Linked DNA regions of Homo sapiens: regions 2 and 3 are each linked to region 1. Evidence: fine-mapped expression QTL. A gene starts in region 1. Each other region holds a variant in brackets. All regions are shown on one strand. Distances are between the middles of the regions. Region 1 holds the start of COL23A1 (collagen type XXIII alpha 1 chain). Region 2 overlaps COL23A1 (collagen type XXIII alpha 1 chain). Region 3 overlaps COL23A1 (collagen type XXIII alpha 1 chain).

What was found. PIP is the estimated chance that this variant, and not a neighbour inherited with it, causes the effect.
Region 2: its variant is the best candidate, but not a certain one, in a credible set for the expression of COL23A1 in putamen (GTEx, PIP 0.81).
Region 3: its variant is the best candidate, but not a certain one, in a credible set for the expression of COL23A1 in cerebellum (GTEx, PIP 0.75).

Annotation. Positions count from the first base shown.
Region 1 is chr5:178,587,988-178,592,259 of GRCh38, reverse strand. COL23A1 (collagen type XXIII alpha 1 chain) reads left to right here and starts at 1,867. Exons shown (of 29, transcript NM_173465.4): 1 at 1,867-2,356. The coding sequence starts at 2,063. RefSeq lists a silencer at 1,666-1,865 and an enhancer at 2,521-3,421.
Region 2 is chr5:178,354,696-178,358,836 of GRCh38, reverse strand. The region is part of intron 2 of COL23A1 (collagen type XXIII alpha 1 chain); the gene reads left to right. Among named protein-coding and RNA genes, the nearest start is that of PHYKPL, 120 kb to the right of the region's middle. The variant A/T (reference allele first, on the strand shown) is at 2,075.
Region 3 is chr5:178,390,761-178,395,032 of GRCh38, reverse strand. The region is part of intron 2 of COL23A1 (collagen type XXIII alpha 1 chain); the gene reads left to right. Among named protein-coding and RNA genes, the nearest start is that of PHYKPL, 160 kb to the right of the region's middle. The variant A/G (reference allele first, on the strand shown) is at 1,900.

The sequences.
Region 1 (4,272 bases):
GGGCCACAGGTGCTGTGGAGCAGCCCTCTTCTATAGCTCCAAGTTCCCCAGGGTTCCCAGTTAGGGATGGTAATGGCCTCCCACTGTCAATACCCGCAGAGTGCTGCTTCGGCCTCCCCTGCTGGCCCCTCTGATCTCCACTTTGTGAAGTGGCTCTACATTCAGGCTGTCTTGAGTCACCCTCTCTGAGGATGCCATCTATTCTTCCAGGACCCTAATGGACACAAGTAAGTCATTTTCTTTTTCGCCTTTTAGAATGAGTTGCAGACAGTATTTCCATCTTAATTCAGCCGCCCCAATTCCCTGATTAATCTTGTGGGCCACCTTAAATTGGGCAGTCTGGGAAGATCTTTTAGAAGCAGTGAGGTTGAGGACCTTGACCTGGAGGATGAGGAGGGGCTTGCCGTTTAACGATCTGAGAGCAGGAATGCAGGTAGTGAGGTGGTAGGCAAGGGCAGAGGCCCAGGGGCCAGTGAGCTTGGCTTTTTCAATACACAGAAGCTTCAGGAACATGGCAAACAATACATGCAGTAACATTAACATAGGTAGGTGGTGTGCAGTTTATGTGCCTGTAAGAAATGTAGTGCTGACTTGTAAGAGGGTGTTGGCCTCTTTTCAGAATGAGGCCAACTTTTCATTCTATTGGGCATACACCAGACTTTAGCACAGAGCCAAGTCTATCAACCATAACCCCCGGCCATCTCAGGGGTTCCCCTCTGAATTAAGGGAAGGAGATGGAACATGTTAGCCAGAGGCACTCAACAGTTCTAAAAGGTGAGTATCCACAGAAATGAGACAACCAGAAGATATCCAGAGTGAGAGGGAAGATGGATATAACGTTATTTTTCTTAAAAAAAAATGGTTGGGGGGTTACTCAAATCACAAAGATCTGAACTGCTGGTTTGTTGTTTCATTTAGGTATTACAGGAGTTAGCGAAAGAGTTACTTGGGACCCATTTAGGACATGAATATGCCTGGTAGGAATCTGAACCCAGCCTGACTTCCAGCAGTTCTTCCCTTTCCTGCCAAGACTTGTTAGTGCCACTCATTCTGTTCTCTGGACCCAGGCTGTACGCCACAGCCTTCTTGCCTCAGCCCTGTGATTTAAATTTGCAGCAGAATCGCAGTACAGGTTAAGTGTGGTGCATACTAGATCATAATTTTTGGCCAAGTTGTGCGTCTAATACAGAATTAAGTCATCAGTTGAACAAGACTTGAAGTTCATTTTCTGAATCTTTCCCATTCGTTATAGTCTCAGTTTTCTCAAAAGCCCTCTCCAGGCCAGAAACAGTCTTACCATTTTTGTTTCCCGCACCGAAGTCCGGCAGCTAAGAACTCGTGAGAAGATTCTAAGGGGCGTATTTCTGTTTGGCGCAATCTCGACCCTGCCTCTCTAAATGTGAGTGCGCAGAGGTCGCTTTCCGCCACGAAGCGGCGCTAATCCACCACCGAGGACAGACCCACTCAGTTTTTTGCAGGATTTGAAGTTTTGAACTTTTACAAGTGTCAGAAAGGTAATTCACAAGTTTAGAGGAATGTGCTAAGGCACGAGTGGTGGGTGCTCCAGCCAGGGGTGGGCTGCAGAAGGGGCGCGGTGTCGCCGGGCTCCCCTCCGACCTCTGGGGTCCACAGTGCGGGCTTGGGCTGGGGAAGCCTCAGAGGTGCGTGCGGGGGCGGGTGCCGGCGCCCGGGCTAGGTGAGGGCAGAGGTGCGCGCTGCGCGTGGGATCAGCCCGGCGCCGACGGGTGGCTCCGAGGAGCTCGCTCCTTCCTCGCCCCCGCCCCCTCGCCGCGCGGGGCCAGCCCGGCCGCTCCTCCCCTGGGTGGGTCCCTGCTCCTTTTCTGGCAGGGTCTATTTGCATAGAGGAAACTGCCCAAAGTGGCCGCTGTGGAGGAGCTGGCTGCGGCGAAGGGGGCGTGCGCGGCGATCCGCTGCTACCCGGAGGCTAACCCCCGCGCCCGGCGGACCTCGTGCCTCGGGCTGTCCCGCCTGCTCCTCTCGCACCCAGCCTCTGCCCCAGCAGCACCGCCCCCTCGGAGAGTCCACGCGCGACGAACGCGCCATGGGCCCAGGCGAGCGCGCCGGTGGCGGCGGCGACGCGGGGAAGGGCAATGCGGCGGGCGGCGGCGGCGGAGGGCGCTCGGCGACGACGGCCGGGTCCCGGGCGGTGAGCGCGCTGTGCCTGCTGCTCTCCGTGGGCTCGGCGGCTGCCTGCCTGCTGCTGGGTGTCCAGGCGGCCGCGCTGCAGGGCCGGGTGGCGGCGCTCGAGGAGGAGCGGGAGCTGCTGCGGCGCGCGGGGCCGCCAGGCGCCCTGGACGCCTGGGCCGAGCCGCACCTGGAGCGCCTGCTGCGGGAGGTGAGCGTCTTGGCGCGTGGCTGGGGCGGACTTGGGTGTGTCGGGTTGAGGGTGGCGGTACGCTGGGAGCCGGGGGCAGCGTGCAGGTCTCTGGGAGGAGGGTCGCCCGCCGGCTGCGTGCGCTCGGGGCCGTCCCAGAGATGGGCACGTCTGCGCCAAGGCGGAGGCAGGGGGTGCCGGCCCCAAGGGGTTTTGCGGTCTCCGCTCCGGCCTCAGGGTCCCGTGCCAGGCAGGCGGCCGCGAGAAAGGGGAAGGAGAGACCAGGGACTTTGGAGTAACAGACCTAGGGTCAGTCTCCACGGGGTGTGCGCTCGGACACGCCGCTTCCCGCCGGCGGCCAGAGTCGGGGATAAAGATGAGGCTCGTGGGAAGTATCTGGTGACTGTGACCAGTAGCACCTACTGTTCCTAACCAACGCTGGTACACCTGGAGAGGCGGTGGTCACGGCGGAGGAAAGCCTCAGACAGGCCCGAGGGCTGGGCCCCGCTGTGCTCCAGTGTGTCTCCAGCAGCTCAGGCCCCAAGACTGAGCGGTCACCGTCGCACTGAGGCCTCGGGGATGGGGGTGGGGGCGCCCACATGACTTGGTAAGATGAGAGGAAGGAGAAACAATCGGGGGTGGAGGACCTGGATTCTGGTTTCAGGCGGTGCCATCTGGGGTGTGGGCTCGCAGGACATCCGGAGTTTCCCGTCCCTTACCTGGGAATCGCGACTTCCACAGCTTACTTGAAAGCTCATATGAGGCTCTGTGACACTTCTAAGGGTTAAGATTGCTGCTGTGTGTCTTCAAAGAAAGAGCCACCTTTGGGTCCTCCAAGCCCTCACCCAGCATGTTGGTCAAAGCCTCCGCCTTTTGTGTGCGGCATGTGCGGCAGTTCCCCTCCCCACGAAACTGGACAGGCCCTGGTGGGCTGGCCAGAGCCTCCCCTGCCGAGCCTTCCTCCTTCTCCTGGGATAGATGGCTGCTCCAGACCCCAAGGTCGCTGTCCAAGGGCGCATCCTCAATTGCTGTGTGAAAACAGGCAGGGTTTCAAGGTGGAGGAGAGGGAGCACTGGCCTGTACACCCCCAATTCCCTAGACTGCCCAGCTGGGATCTTTATTAACGTATCCAGCTGTGTTTCCAATGTTGAGTTCCTTTGGATTCCAAAGGAAAGTGGGAGAAGATGACTTGCGTACCACACCTCCTTGTTCACCCCACCTGTTTCTTAGTCACTTTAATTTAAGCTAGGATCACATCTCTTCTAGCTGGGTTCTGGGTAAAATTGCTGCTTCATGAAATGATTTCCTATTTTACCCTTGAAAGGGCCTGCAGACTTAAAACTCTCTCTCAGCCCTGCTGGAAACTCCTGGCGATGGTTTCATAATTGCCGCCCATTAGCTTTTGGCAAATGCCTGGAGACCAGGGTGTTGAATTGATTTATAGAGGGCCAGTAAAGTTTCTACCTGTTAGCGCTATAAGTGTGGCTGCTCTTTCTCATAGGAGGCCTCTCTTATTTGCTAAAAATAAACCGCAAGCCCTGATTGAGTAAATCAGAAGTCCTGATACAACCATTTTACAAGGAACTACAAATTGTGTCTATTTTAGGAGGGAGGGGCATCCTGGGCAGGCAGCCACTGCTGGGAAGTGTTGATTTTTGAGTCCTGAACTTCAGCGGGAGAGACTGCAGTTGCTCTCCCAGGCTTCCCCCCTCCCGGCTGCACTGAATTTTACCTGGGTGAACTACAGTGCTTGAACAATGAGTTATTGGACAGGGTGTGTGTTCTCTCTCTCTCTCTGTTCTTGATTAGAAAGGCAAGAGAAAAATTTAGAATCCAGGGAACCCTGTATTCTGGAGAATTTGCCGTGCCATTCACACGTGGTCCTGCTCGCTAATCCCAGCTGGGTATCTGAGGCGCATGCTGTGCGTGGAGTGTAA
Region 2 (4,141 bases), 230 kb after region 1:
ATATGAGTGGGGGCTTATATACAAATCACACATGGGTATATCATGTTTACACACATACACATACACACACATACACACACACAGATACACACACAGATACACATACACACATACACATACACACATACACACATACACATACATACACACACATACACATACACATTAGACACATACACACGTACACATACACACACACACTAGACACATACACACATACATACACGCATACACACATACACATACACACACATACACATACACATTAGACATACACACGTACACATACACACACATACACACACTAGACATACATACACACATACACACATATACACGCATACACACACATATATACGCATACGCACATACACATACGCATACATATACACACATACACACATACACATACACACACATACACATACACACATACACATACACATACACACATTAGACATACACACGTACACATACACATACACACAATACACACATTAGACATACATACACATACACATACACACACATACATACATACATATACGCACACGCATACACACATATACACACATATACATACACACACATACACATACACACATACACACATTAGACACACATACACACGTACACATGCACACACATACACATACATACACATACACATTAGACATACACACATACACATACACACACATTAGACGTACACACGTACACATACACATACACACACATTAGACCTACACACGTACATACACATACACACAATACACATACATTAGACATACATACACATACACATACGCATACACACACATACACACACATACATATACACACACGCATACACACATATATACACATACACATACACACATATACATACACACACATACATACACATACACACATACACATACACACACATTAGACACACATACACACACACGTACACATGCACACACATATACATACACATACACATTAGACATACACACACATACACATAAACACACATACACACATACACACACACATACACACACACATACACATACACACATACATACACGTACACACACACATACACGTACATACACACACACACACACACATACACACATTTTAAATCTGACCTGACATTAAGCAAAATAACAACTGAAAATTTCAGCTGATGGGTAAATTCCTTTATATTTGGGACAAACATGTGAAAGCAAGGGTGATACCCATCAGCCTAGAGTCAAAGGCTGGCCCCTGGAGGCCGCCTGCCTCTTGGTATCATTCAGAGCAGATTCCAAAATATGTTTTCCTTCAAAGAACTCACTTGTTTCCCCAGCGGACGGTTAAAACCTCAAAGGCGCACAGTTCCCCAGTGTGCTGTTCCCAGCAAGAGCCTGCATGCCCGGCCTGATTTCATTGTGAGTTCTCTGAGTCGAGGCTGTGCGGCCCCAGCCCTGCAGCCAAGCTGACCCCCCGACCCCAGGGGGCAGAGGCACTTCCGCCGGCTCACAGAAAAGGCATTCTCCTGAGGGCGTGGACAGACCAGAAGCCTGTGAGAAGGGAAGGAGGTCACCATCTGAGGGGATGCACTACCCGGCACTTCAGAAAGCAGGTCACTGGGCAGGCGCCCTCAAGGTCACTTCCTGCTGGGAAGCCCCAGGTCACCAGGGAGGGAACCCGTGCTTAATGCAATTAGATACTGAAAGAACAGAAGGGAACAGGAGAACAGCATCGAGTAAAGGGAAGTACATCTTTAGCTCCGTTCATTTTCCTTTCTTCTGCAGACTTTAGACAATACTTGCATTTGACTCGAAGCACTGTTTGGAAAAGGCCAGCCTAACTTTTGTTGAGCATCCACGAGCGTCAGGCTTTGTGTTAGACTTTTTTTTATGCAGCATCTCTAATTATCTGGAGAGGTGGGCACGGGTGTGCTGGGTTGGAGAGGCTCAGTGCGCAGACCCCAGGGGGTTGCAGTGGGGACCAGCACCAGGGTTCCTGAGGCTCGGAGCCCTGGCATCTCCTCCTGCTGCATAGCCAATCTCGGTGCCAGGCGGCCGGGGGAGGGTGCGTA[A/T]CTCCTGCCCAGGCATCACTCTGCTGGGTTTGGCGCGTGCCTCCTCCTCAGGCAGCCAAGCCGGCTCTGCTCCGGCGGCAATGGCTACTTTAATGTGGGGACTGGGGAGGCGCTGACTTTTGCTTTCCTTTGCCTTTTTTTTCCTGTGTCTCGCCTTCTCTCCCTTAACCCTTTGCACCCTGCCTTTCTCTTTCTGGGAAGAAGGAATGCATTCCTGAGGCAGAATGCCTCCTCCCACCCCTGCCTCCAGGGCTCAGGCCCCTCTCCTGAGGCAGTCGATCCTGGTGTCTTCTGGTTCTCCCCAGACATACCTCAAACAAATGCCCCCTCTTTTAAACAAGCTGTGGAATGCTTTACCCCCTGTGCTGCGCCTTGCCTTTTTTCATAACAGCTTTATTGATATACAGTTCACAGACCGCAGACTCCAGCTGTTTAAAGTGCACCACTCGTGGTTTTCAGTGTGTTCAGAATTGTGCAGCCAGCATCACAATCAACTTTAGACCATGATCGTCACCCTAAAAGAAGTCCTGTACCCATTGGCTGTCCTCCTCCCCTCCGCAACCCCAGGCGGCCACTCCTCTGCTTCCCGTCTCTGTGGCTTTGCCTATTCTGGACATTTCTTAGAGTGGGGCCCTAAGCCTGGGGTCTTCTGTGCCTGCGTCTGTCACTGAGCACCATTTCAAGCTTCATCCATGCTGCAGCGTGCTCAGCACCTTGCGTTTTATACTTCAAGAAATCTTGGAAATCATCCCATATCAGGAAATAGAAATCTGCCTCAGTCTTTTTATTTTACTGTATTAATTTTAATAGGTAAGATATTTGCTCACTCAACATTCAAGTGGTATAATCACTGCACAAGTTGGTGAACATGTTCACTAGCTCAGTGCTGTCAATCATTTCGCAATACGCAGTCAGCCCTCTGAACCTGCAGCTCTGCATCTGTGGATTCAGCTAAACACAGATCAAAAAAAATTCAGAAAAAAATACAAACAAGCCTGTATTCCCAGCACTTTGGGAGGCCGAGGCGGGCGGATCATGAGGTCAGGAGATGGAGACCATTCTGGCTAACATCCTTGGCGGCGTGAGCCTGTGGTCCCAGCTACTCGGGAGGCTGAGGCAGGAGAATTGTTTGAACCCAGGAGGCGGCGGTTGCAGTGAGCCGAGATCGCACCACTGCACTCCAGCCTGGGCAACAGAGCAAGACTCTGTCTCCAAAAAAATAAAAACAAACCTCTTTTCTTTATAAATTACTCAGCCTTCGGTAGTTCTTTATAGCAATGCGAGAACAGACTAATATACTATGTAACCCAGGCTGGAAAACTGCATCTATTTTAGATGTATGACTTAATGTTTCCATATCTGTATAGCGTTGTGCCTTAATATCCATGGGGGATTGGCTCCAGGACCCCCCTGCAGATACCCAAATCTGGACTGCTCAAGTCCTTGATATAAAATGCTTGTTTATTTATTTTATTTATCTTATTTTATTTGAGGTTCTTTGTGGCCCAGACTGGAGAGCAGTGGTGTGATCCTAGCTCACTGCAGCCTTGAATTCCTGGTAAAATGTGTAGTATTTGCATATAACCAATACACATCCTCCATATGCTTTAAGTCATCTCTAGATTACTTATAATGCCTAATATGATGTAAATGCTATGTAAACAGTTACTATTCTGCATTTTAAAAATCCATTTTTTTTTTTTTTTGAGACAAAGTCTCACCTGTCTCCCAGGCTGGAGTACGGTGCTATGATCTCCACTCACTGCAACCTCCGCCTCCCGGTTTCAAGCGATTCTCCTGCTTCAGCCTCCCGAGTAGCTGGGACCACAGGCTCACACCACCATGCCCAACTAATTTTTTGTATTTTTACTAGAGACGGGGTTTCACCGTATTGCCCAGGCTGGTTTCGAACTCCTGAGCTCAGGCAATCCATCTGCCTCGGCCTCCCAAAGTGCTAGGATTACAGGCATGAGCCACCACACCCAACCTAAAGAAAAGAGGGTTTAATTGGCTCGCGTTTTCACAGTCTGTACGGGAAGCATAGTGGCTTCTGCTTCTGGGGAGGCC
Region 3 (4,272 bases), 200 kb after region 1:
AGCCGAATGCCCAGAGCGCCTGCCCGCCGGGGAGAGACTCTCGGAGGACGGCCGGGGCCGGAACCAAGCCTGGACGTTTGGAGCTGAGAGCCGAATGCCCAGAGCGCCTGCCCGCCGGGGAGAGACTCTCGGAGGACAGCCGGGGCCGGAACCAAGCCTGGACGTTTGGAGCTGAGAGCCGAATGCTGCTTAGCATGACTAATTAGCTCAACTAATTCCCCTCAGCCCTTGCCCGAGACCCAGGGCCTTGTAATTCTAGCCCTGCTATGTCCCACTTGTGACCCTGGGGAGGCATACCATCTCTCTGGGCCTCAGTTTCCCCATGTGTAGCAGATGGGAGTCAGACCATCAGCAGTCCCCTCTGCGTGTCAGGGTGGACTCAGGAACCAGGAGGCTGAACTTGCAGCCAAATGCTAGCTAAGGATGATTTTCAGTTTACCCAAAGATGTGAACCTTCAGGCCACACAGTTTAGCTGTGAACACCATGTTGAGGCCGGAACATCGTGGCTTTTGAAATGAGTTAATTTCTTGGAGCAGGAAAAGTACCCCGTGCTGTCAATACAGTTGTCTTCCTTGGAGATCTTCAGGGAGTGAGCTGAGAGAGGGCTGGTGGGGCTGCCTCTGCATTCCTGGGGTGGGGCTGCAGGCCCTATGCAGCCTAGCAGGTGTTCTCCAGCTGGGAGTGGCTCCGAGTTGAGGGCTCAGGGTTGACTCACCCAGTGTGTGGCAGGCACTGTTCTGTGCCAGCCTCTGGGCTGACTGAGCATCAGGGCATGGGTTAAACCTGTACCGGACCTGCCCTCAGGAGGCTCCAGGCCTGCAGGGCAGGACAGGTGCAGATAGTGACTGTATGCTCTGCCTGTGCTGGAGCCCTGGGCCTCCTCCTTGCCTGTCCTGCCTCTGCTTCCTCCCTGAAGCTTCCCTTCCTCCTGCCCTCCCAGGTCTTTCGCTCCAGGTTTGATAGTCTGTGGCCACACTGAGCACCTGCTTCCTTGGGACCAAGGGGTTATGTCCCATCCTTCTGTCAGGGCACCTGGTGGGCAGGGTTGGGGTGGGTCCTCCCCACTCCTTGGCACCCTTGGAAAATCAGTTGAAAAGAGGGAAGAAGCCAGGCTTGGTAGCTCACACCTATAATCCCAGCACTTTGGGAGGCCAAAGCAGGTGGATTACTTGAGGTTAGGAGTTTGAAACCAGCCTGGACAACATGGTGAAACCCCATCTGTACAAAAATTAGCCAGGCGTGGTGGTGCACACCTGTAGTCCCAGTTACTTGGGAGGCTGAGGCAGAAAAATCGCTTGAGCCCGGGAGGTGGAGGTTGCAGTGAGCAGAGATTGCGCCTGGGTGACACAGCAAGACCCTGTCTGGAAAAAAAAAAAAAAGGAAAAGAGGGAAGAGAGTCTTGATTGATGATTTTTATCAATTTCCTTCCACATGCATTGGGAGCTGGTCTCACATGATCTGAATGGTGCCAGGGAAATTTTTTTATTGTAGTAAAACATACATAACATAAAATGTACCATCTTAACCATTTTTAAGTGTACAGTTCAGTGGCATTAAGTATATTCACGTTGTTGTGCAACCATCATCAGAACTGTTTACATCTTGCAGAACGAAAACTCTGCACCCATTAAGCCATAACTCCCCATTCCTCCTCCCCACAGCCCTGGCACCCACCATTTACTTCCCATCTTTATGACTTGGAGTACCCTGGCTTGGCTCATCCAGCATTTGTCCTTCCGTGACTTCTTCTTTGTGGCTTCTTTCATTTAGCGTAACATCCTCAAGGTCCATCCGTGCTGTCGCATGTGTCAGAATTTCCTTCCTTTTTAAGGCTGAAAACTATTCCATTTAAGGCTAATGCTCCCTGCCAGGGCCATCTCTCGAGCCAGATGTTTTAT[A/G]TGCATGCAACAAATCGTTTACTTCGGCAACAATGCACGGTTGGGAGTTCGAAGGCCTGAGCTTGAGCTGCTTTTCTGCCAGGCACCCGCTGTGGGTCCTTGGGCTCTTGTCCTGCCTGAGTCTCTCTGCAAAATGCAGATGGCTGAGCAGGTGGTTTTGAGCACCCAGTGAGGGAGGGCGTTCTGTACTGGTGAGGAGTTGCACTAACAGTGGTACTGCTGTCAGACACCTCCAAGGTGTTTCTCTTCAGCGCTGGCACACTCTTAGGTCTCCTTTCTCCTTTTCTTGCTTGGCCACGTTGGGTCTTGTTCTTCCTGAGGCCTCCTCTTCTAATGTGGCATTTTCTGTTGAACTGTCAATCTTCAGGTAACAATGTGGCTATTGGTAGGAGGGGTCTCACTATTACATTTGCAAGTGGTGAAAAGCTGAGCCGGCCATGGGGTAGCGTGATACATTTGGGAGCCGAATTTAGGCTGAGGGTGGCAGCAGGGACCATTGTCCGCTGGACCCTGCCATCCTGAGTGGACTTCCTGTGGCCTCGTGTCTCAGTAAGAAGGCAGAGAACACAGTTTCTGTCCCTTTGTGCTTCTGTGTGGATAAAACATTGCTGCTGTCCTGACAGTTAGCCAGGGCAATTCTGGAGGTGGCGTGGCCTTCTGTGCAGCCCTGTTTCGTTGTAAGGTTTTTGTGTTTCTGTTTGAAGATGTGTCTTGTAGATGCAGTTTCTTTAACATTTTAGAAGAAAGATGGGAATGCAGTAGGTGCATTGTTTGAAAGATATAAATAAGGTGAGTGTGCTCCGAGGACACCCAGGGCAGATTGTGATGCTGCGTCCGTGCGGGCTCAGCCATTCAGATTGCTTTTGCTTTATAACAATCTTAGGATATAACTCACTATACAGTTTACCCATGTAAAGTGCAGAAGTCAGTGGTTTTTATTATACTCACAGAGTAGTGCAACCAACACCACAATAAATTTTGGAACAATTCATCAACCAAAAAAAAAAAAAAAAAATAGCAGACACTCCTATTACTAGCCACCCATCATTTCCCCTCAAAGCCCCCAGCCCGCAGCAACCACTAATCTACTTTCTGTCTCTACAGATTTCCCTATTCCAGACATTTCATATAAATAGGATCATATAATACGTGACTTTCTGTGTCTGGCTTCTTTCACTTAGCGTAATGTTTTCAAGATTCCTGCATGTTCATCCCGGTGTCAGTACTTCATTCCTTTTAGTCTCAAATAATGTTTCATTGTATGAATATACCACATTTTATTTATCCATTGATCAGCTGGTGGACATTTGGATACTTGGACTTTTGGGCCATTTTTAATAATGTTGCTGTGAACATGGGCGTACAAGTGTTTGTATGGACAGATGTTTCATTTCTCTTGGGTAAATAGGAGCAGAATTACTAGATCGTATGGCAGTCTGTGTGAAGCCATTTGAGCACCTGCCAGACTGTCTTCCAAAGCTGCTGCAGCATTTTTTACATTCCCACCAGCTATGGATGAGGGTTCCAGTTTCCCCCCATCCTCACCAACATTTTTGACTGTCTGACTCTTTTATTCTGGCCATCCTAGTGGGAGTGAAGTGGTACTTTATCGTGGCTTTAATTTGCATTTCCCTGCTGTCTAATGACGTTTCCTATGTCTTCATGTGCTTAGTAACTATTTGTTTATCTTCTTTGGAGAAAGGTCCATTGACATCCTCTGCCTATTTGTCTTTTTATTGTTGACTTGTAAGAATCCTTTACGTATTATAGTTACAGGTCCCTTATCGGATATATGATTTGCAAATATTTTCTGCCATTCCATGGCTTATCTTTTTCCTTTTCTTCACGGTATCTTTTAAAGCAGTGGTCTCCAACCTTTTTGGTGCCATGGACTGGTTTCGTGGAAAACAATTTTTCCACAGACAAGGGTGGAAGGATGATGGTTTTGGAGGCATTAGATTCTCATAAGGAGTGCACAGCCTGGATGCCTTGCATGCATAGTTCACAATAGGGTTCATGCTCCTATGAGAATCTGATGCCGCTGCTGATCTGACAGAAGGTGGAGCTCAGGCGGTAATGCTCACTGTCCTGCCACTCACCTCCTGCTGTGAGGCCCGGTTCCTAACAGGCCACAAACTGGTCCACAGCCCAGGGGTTGGGGCCCCTGTTTTAAGGCACAAAAGTTTATTTGTTTTGAAATCCAGTTTATCTATTGCTCCTTTGGTTGCTTATGCTTTCGGTGTCATATTAACACACTACTGCCTAATACCAAGATCATGAAGATTTACACCTATGTTTTCTTCTAAGAGTTTGATAGTTTTAAGTCTTACATGTAAGTCTGATCCACCTGGAGTTAATTTCTACATATGGTGT